Linked DNA regions of Homo sapiens. The protein of the gene in region 1 purifies or fractionates together with the protein of each later gene. This does not show direct contact. Each region holds a gene or a part of one and is shown in the gene's direction. Other genes may lie near its edges.

Region 1 (3,916 bases):
CTCTGCTAAAAATACAAAAAATTAGCCGGGCGTGGTGGTGGGTGCCTGTAGTCCCAGCTAATCGGGAGGCTGAGGCAGGAGAATGGCTTGAATCTGGGAGGCAGAGGTTGCAGGGAGCCGAGATCGCACTGCTTCACTCCAGCCTGGGCAACAGAGCGAGACTCCGTTTAAAAAAAAAGAAAAGAAATTTCTTCCGCCAGACACCCTGGCGTGGTATCTCTAGGGCATGGACAGAATGCAGCCACGTTGTTTGCTAAGGCGTAACAAAGGTGGCTTTCGCTCTAGTTCCAAGTAAGATCCTTATTTCCAGCTGAGACCTTGTCAGCCTGGACTTCGCTGTTCACATCACTATCAGCATTTTGGTCACAACCATTTAATCCATCTCTAAGAAGTTTCAAACATTCCCTTCTCTTCCTGTCTTCCTCCGGGCCCTCCAAATAACATGAGGTCTATTCCGTTAACAAATTTCAAGTGAACAAGACGTTATTGCTGACGATGGGTCGTATGTGGTGCAGCAGATCTCTAGGCCTGTTTGTTAATAACTCCCCATTTCCCCCTCCTCCCAGCCCCCGTAACCACCATTCCCTGCTGTGATGTTGTGACTCTGGTGACTTTGCAGATCTCCTGTAAGTGACATCATGCAGTACTTGGTCTCTGCCTCTGCGTCGCTTGGCGTGATGTCCTCAGGTTTCGTCCGTGTTGTCGCCCATGGCAGAATTTTCTTCCTTGTTTAAGGCTGAATAGTATTCCCCTGTGTGTGCACCACATTTTCTATATCAATTATTCTATCAATGGACATTTAGATGGTTTTCACGTCTTAGCTATTGCGAATAGTGCTGCAGTGATCAGGGGAGTTCAGACGGCTCTTTGACATACTGATTTTTTTTTTTTTTTTAGACAGAGTCTTGCTGTTGTTGCCCAGGCTGGAGGGCAATGGTGCAATCTCAGCTCACTGCAACCCCTGCCTTCTGGGTTCAAGCGATTCTCCTGCCTCAACCTTCCAAGTAGCTGTGCCCACCACCACACCCAGCTAATTTTTTGTATTTTTAGTAGAGACAGGGTTTCACTATGTTGGCCAGGCTGGTCTCGAATTTATGGCCTCAGGTGATCCACCCACCCCGGCCTCCCGAAGTGCTGGGATTACAGCTGTGAGCCACTGCGCCTGGCCTGTTTCTTTTAAATACAGACCCAGAAGTGGGATTGCTGGACCATATGGTAGCTCTATTTTTAATTTTTTGAGGAACCTCCCCACTGTTCTCTATAGTGATTGCCCAATTTTTAATTCCTACTGTGGTATGCGAGGGATCCAGTTTCTCCACATCCTCACCAATAGTCTCCTTAAAAAAATAATATGCTTTGTAGGATATTTTTAACGTGTTAAATACCTTGTCGGGATTTTAGCATAGATCACAATATTAAAAACTTGGGGAAGGATTTCTATGGCTCCCATTTGTAATACAAGGAAATGTCAGCTTCTAGTTTTGTAACGTCTTGCCCAAGAGCTGCGACCGTTAACTTGTGGAGTTGGGACGGCGTCCAAGTCAATTGGTTGCCCGACCTTTATTCTGCCTTGTCCCATAGATTTAGAAAGAGGCTGACACATCTGGTAACTAGTTTACGGTCATCTGCCTCTAAGCGACATTTAGGGTAAGCGACATTTTTCAGAAACCAAGGCCCTCCCTCTCGTCTCACTAGTGGGAAGGGTGGAAAGAACAGGACAGAAAGCTCTTCCTCTTGTGTGAGGCAGTTGCTGTGGAAGCCCCATAGGCAGGAGGCCCCCGGGCAGCACATCCTGTCTGCTTGTGTCTGCTGCAGAGTTCTGTCCTTGCATTGGTGCGCCTCAGGCCAGGCTGCACTGCTGGGACCTGGGCCATGTCTCCCCACCCCACCGCCCTCCTGGGCCTAGGTGAGTCCTGGAGGCAGCCGGGAGGCTGGAAAGGGGGTCGGGAGGTCTGGAAAATTCCCTGCTCAAGCCTGACTCTAGTCCAGAAGATTCTGGGGAGGAAAGTGTCCTCCTCCTCCCAAGACTGCCCTGCTGCTCTCCCTGGGGCCTAAGTCTGATCAGAGAAGATCTTGTCCTAAAAACAGGGGCCCGGGTGTGGGGATGAGGTCAGCTTTAAGAAGGGCTGGGGGAGCAGGAGCCTTTTTGGAGGAGGAGACTTTGGGATTTATCTTGAAACCATTTTGCAGCAAGAAGGATTACATGGAGACAGTGATGTCGAGGAGGGTTGGCTTGGTCGTTATGAAATGCTGAATGCCCCCCAGCTCCATCGAGCCCCCTTTTGACAGCAGCCCCGTAAGGAGACTGGGCACTGGGCATTTTTCTCACTGGGGCTTCTCTTCCAGTGCTCTGCCTGGCCCAGACCATCCACACGCAGGAGGGTAAGTCATGCCTTCGTCCCATCTTCCCAGTCCCCTCTGTCACCCCAAGGGCAGTGCTGGGTGGGAGTGATGTTGATTCTTAGAGGGCCTGGAGAGATCCCTTTAAATATACCCTAGATTGCAAACTCTTCCAAATGTAAAATGCATAACCAACCCTCACCCAGTTCTCTCTCGCATCCTCCACCTGTCTTATTTTGCTTTTCTTATTTTCAAAAATTTTATTTTTAATTGACAAATAATTGCAATTTGCGGGGTACAGTGTGATATTATGACGTATGTACACATTGTGGAAAGATTAAATAAAGCTGATTAACATATCAGCCCCATCACATACTTATTGTGATGAGAATATTTTAAATCTCCTTTTAGCAATTTTGAAATATACAATAAATTATTATGAACTACTGTCATTCTGCTGTGCCATAGATCTGAAAAATTCACTCGTCCTGGCTACTCGAAACTTTGTATCATTTGATCAGTGTCTCTCCCATGCCCCGCACCTGCAGCCTCCAATAACCACCATTCTACTCTGCTTCCGGGTGATCAACTTTTCTTAGATTCCACAGATAAGTGAGAACGCGCAGTAATTGTCTTTCTGTGCCCGGCTTATTTCACTTAGCCTAACGTCCTCTGGTTCATCCATGTTGTTGCGAATGACAGAATGTCCTTCCTTTTTTAGGGCTGAATAATATTCCATTGCATATACACAGCACATTCTCCTCATCCATTCATTTGGCGGTGGGCACTCAGGTTCTTGCCAGGTCTTGGCGGCTGTGAGTAGTGCTGCGGTCACCCTGGGAGTGCAGGCGTCAGCTCCGCACACCGATTTCCACAATGAGAATTCAAACCCAACACAACCAAGGCTGAGCCCGGCACTTTTCCCCAGACGAGCCCACACTTCACTCGGCAGCTTCTTGGCGGGGAACATGACAGTCACAAAGGGCAGACTCTGAACACTCATCCTCTTCTCCATCCTCCTGGATGCACCATGTCACCCAGTCCTGGTGATTTCACTCTAAATTTTTCTCATCTTTCCCTCTCTCTTCATCGACTTTTCCTGCATCACCCCCAGGTGACAGCCCCTCTCCCCTCCGTGGCTCCCCGAGGCCGGCCTCAGCCTGTCCATGCCACTGCTGCCTGCTCCCTTCCTGACCCCAGGGACTGGCGATTTGCAAAAGCACAACCATGACCATTGTACTTTCCACAGTTTTTAAATTGTATTCAAAAATTTTCATTTAATATCTCATCGTAAGATGAAATCTTTTTTTTTTTTTCTCAGAGCCCTTCCCCTGTTTATCTTCAGATAGAATCAGACCTGTGCACCTCTCTTTGGTCTGGACATGCCCATTTTCCCAGCCACATCCTGTCCCTGTGACCTGGGGCTCACTCATCTCTACATTCCTCCAGGTTCTTTCGCTTTCTCAAACACTCCATATGCCGCTCAATATGGTGGTTCTTCTCACATGCTGATTTTGAAAAAAAATAATTCATTTTAAAAATGACCAATGAGGCTGGGTGCGGTGGCTCACATCTG
Region 2 (3,816 bases), on another chromosome or scaffold:
CTCATAAAACAAAAACAAAAAAAAATGCAGATTCTTGAATCCCATCCTAGGCCCCCTGAAATCAGAATCTTAAAGGAAAGGGTCCAGGAATTTTCCACATGAATTTGTAACATTGTATATTAACAGTTGCCCTAGGTGATTCTTATGATTTGGCGAGTTTGGTAGACATTGCACTGTAGGATTCCCTTAGTTCAGCAAAGACCTCTAGGATCTTTAAAATGCAATTTATTTTCTTAAAAAATATATCAATAGGCTTTTAGGAATACATGGTGTTTCTAAGTCAAATTGAGGCATTGCCTAAGAGTGCGGCCCGATCAAGTCAAACCCTCTGAGAATGTTCTGTGAACGCCAAGGTTGCTGGTTAAGATGAGGACGTGATCAGTGACACGCACTCTCTGGTTCTGTTGCCCCACAGGTGGCTTGCAATTCGCCTGGAGCTGGTTGGGAACCTGACTGTCTTCTTTTCAGCCTTGATGATGGTTATTTATAGAGATACCCTAAGTGGGGACACTGTTGGCTTTGTTCTGTCCAATGCACTCAATGTGAGTTTGAAGGTTGGGAGTTTGGTTTCGTTAGTGTGCTTATTCTTAAATTAAGCCTGATGTATACTGTGGAGTCTGTGCTCTTGATTCCTTCTTAAACCCAGAGGGACTAAAGAAGACTGAGGTTCAAACCCTGGCTCCATCTTTTACCCATGGACGTATTCCTTACTCTTCCTAAGTAGACATGAATGCCATCTAGAAAACTGGACATAAATATTGACCTTAGGGCTTAAGAAGGCAATTTCATATGTTTCAATCTAATTGTTCCCTGTCTGCCTCTTTGCTTGGTTCTAGTGAGAGAATAAATAACTTTCTTCTCTAGAACGTAGCAGTAATCAGAAAGGCTTTTTGAACAAATAATTCCTCCTGTGTTTATTTTTCTTAGATCGTAGAATAATTGGAGGTAATTCTAATAAAGAACATAGAGTCTGATAAAACTATAGAATGTGTCTCACTGCAGCATCCCCAGCATGACTAGAGGATACATGGCAGGCATGATTCTTTTCTAGCACCTAAGACAGTGGCTGGCACTACCGTAATTATTCAATCAATATTTGTTATAAATGAGTCATTTGACCATCTTTTTGAACTAATTTTTTTAGTTCAAAGAGATTTGCATAGTTACATGTGGGCATTATATAATAGTGCTGTCTTCATTAGAAGTTAATAAGGCCTGTGGAGCACAGTGGCTGACACCTGTAATCCCAGCACTTTGGGAGGCCAAAGTGGGTGGATCACCTGAGGTCAGGAGTTTGAGACCAGCCTGGCCAACATGGTGAAACCCCATCTCTACTAAAAATACAAAAAAAATTAGCCAGGCATGGTGATGAGTGTCTGTAATCCCAGCTACTGGGGAGGCTGAGGCAGGAGAATCACTTGAACCCAGGAGGCAGAGGTTGTAGTGAGCCAAGATCGTGCCATTGCACTCCAGCCTGGGCAACAGAGCAAGATTCCATCTCAAAAAAAAAAAAAAAGAAGTTAATAAGGCCCAATGTGTTCCTGCCAGGGCACCTAAAAGGACTTTGTTATTCACTAGAGTCACTTAGTTCCTTGTGTCACTGCCCTTTCATACCCCCATTTCTAGGCTTTTTAGCCCAGGACAGACAAGGCAAATAGTCAGGAAACTATTAGATTGAACCAAAACAAAATGACTCAAACACCGGCAATTACATATGCTTCAATCTACACAAAGTGGATACTCTGAGTCCCCATGATTCCGTCCTCTGCTTTCTGTGGCTCCCTTTCTTTAACCACCATTTGCTCAACAAGAACTCTCTGTGCATATATGCAAACTCCTGAGTCTTTTTCTGAAAGAAGTTTGCATCTGAGTAATCTACAGATTCCCTGGCCTGGATCATGCCTTTCCCTGATTCACAAAGAACACTAGGCATCCAGGCAGGAGGCCTGAGCTCTGCTCCCACTCCACCCATTGCCAGACTCTCAAATTCCAGCTTTAGTCCCAAACCACTAGACACTCACATTGCCCTTCGCGTGAGCACCTAATTAGTCTGCAGCCATTCAATGCACTGCTCTTAATTCCTTCCCCAAGGAGGCAAGGATTGTCTTTCTTACACTTTTCCTTACTCCCTTGTAGAGTCCAGCACAGTGCTGGGTACAAAGTCGGCACTGGATTGTCCTTGTGGTTTGAGTGGTTGAGTTGGTTTCTGTGCCTATGATGATTTTCAGTCTTCTGGTTTTTCTGTAGATCACACAAACCCTGAACTGGCTGGTGAGGATGACATCAGAAATAGAGACCAACATTGTGGCTGTTGAGCGAATAACTGAGTACACAAAAGTGGAAAATGAGGTAAGGAGGAACTGGAAAAATCCAGGAACAAGGCAAAAACAACATGCAACTCCTTCGAGAGTGCATCTTTAGAATTTCTCCATATTTTACATGGGCCCATAATGGGTCCCTAAAGTTTCCTTTCCTCTAACTCAAAGGACCTAATTTCTTCAAACTTAGAATAGGAAATGGTTTAGGGGATGTCGGGTCTTGCAACATACCGAGGAGATCTACAGCACAAGCTCATGGTGTATTTTTCTTTAACTGAATAAGGTAGGAACTTTCCAAAAGTGCAAGTCTAGTTCAGCCTATTAAATGCAGAGGCCATTAGGTAGCTGGGACACTGCTACCCTTCTCCTGTTCTATGACACGAGTCCTGGGTGGACTGTTCGGCTGAGTTGCCACCTTATAAAACTTACTTCTCATCTTGTCTCCTTGCCAGGCACCCTGGGTGACTGATAAGAGGCCTCCGCCAGATTGGCCCAGCAAAGGCAAGATCCAGTTTAACAACTACCAAGTGCGGTACCGACCTGAGCTGGATCTGGTCCTCAGAGGGATCACTTGTGACATCGGTAGCATGGAGAAGGTAGGTGGAGTGAAGGAAGGCCTGGATGGGAGGCCTTGTGATCAAACAACAATTGGACAGAGTGGAGAGCAGCTGGGCCCTAAGCCTTCATCATTTGGATGGAGGGAAAGGGTCAGGGCACTTCCTCTGCCCTGGGGAGGTGTGGGGACACAGTATCAGAGGGAAGGATAGCAGCCAGGGATCACACAGACTTACCGCAGCTGTCGGGGCCTTCTGCTCAGCTCCTCCCTGCCTCCTAGCCAGCTGACCAGGGCCCCTTTCCTATAAGGTCCACAGTATGCAGAGAGGAAGTCAGGAAGGAAACAAGGGGGCGGCCAGGCCTGGTGAAGGAACTGTTGAGAATAGCAGTGTGGAGGTTGTCCCTGAAGGAAGAATGGCCCAGTTCTCCTCCCAGTCTTCAAAGTCAGGCACCCTCCTTAGGTGCTGTTGTTCTCCGAGGACTTGGGGTCTGATGAGCAAGGACGCTGAGGTCCAGATCAGAGTCTGGCTCTCAGCTGGTGGCAGACCTAATCTTTCCCTTCTTCACTTCTAAACAAGCATTTTTCTTTTTTCTTTATTTTTATTTATTTATTTATTTATTTTCAGATGGAGTCTCACTCTATCACCCAGGCTGGAGTGCAGTGGCACAATCTTGGCTCACTGCAACCTCTGCTTCCTGGGTTCAAGTGATTTTTCTGACTCAGACTCCCAAGTAGCTGGGACTACAGGTGCACGCCACCATGTCTGGCTAATTTTTTTTGTATTTTTAGTAGAGACGGGGTTTTGCCATATTGACCAGGCTGGTCTTGAACTCCTGAACTCAGGTGATCTGCCTGCCTTGGCCTCCCGAAGTGCTGGGATTATAGGCATGAGCCACCACGCCTGGCCTAAACAAGGATTTTGTTTTTATCTATAATTTCCAA

What was found.
Region 2: the proteins of LAIR1 (region 1) and ABCC2 purify together in Homo sapiens (affinity purification with mass spectrometry; one large-scale study listed by BioGRID and IntAct). This does not show direct contact.

What each region holds. Positions count from the first base shown.
Region 1 is NC_000019.10:54,362,761-54,366,676, reverse strand, and holds the start of LAIR1 (leukocyte-associated immunoglobulin-like receptor 1 isoform a precursor), read left to right. Parts: upstream 1-1,745; 5' UTR 1,746-1,872; coding exon 1,873-1,906; intron 1,907-2,190; exon of another isoform or gene 2,191-2,346; coding exon 2,347-2,382; intron 2,383-3,916. UniProt on the Homo sapiens protein: Functions as an inhibitory receptor that plays a constitutive negative regulatory role on cytolytic function of natural killer (NK) cells, B-cells and T-cells.
Region 2 is NC_000010.11:99,841,552-99,845,367, forward strand, and holds part of ABCC2 (ATP-binding cassette sub-family C member 2), read left to right. Parts: intron 1-415; coding exon 416-542; intron 543-2,247; coding exon 2,248-2,349; intron 2,350-2,770; coding exon 2,771-2,914; intron 2,915-3,816. UniProt on the Homo sapiens protein: ATP-dependent transporter of the ATP-binding cassette (ABC) family that binds and hydrolyzes ATP to enable active transport of various substrates including many drugs, toxicants and endogenous compound across cell membranes.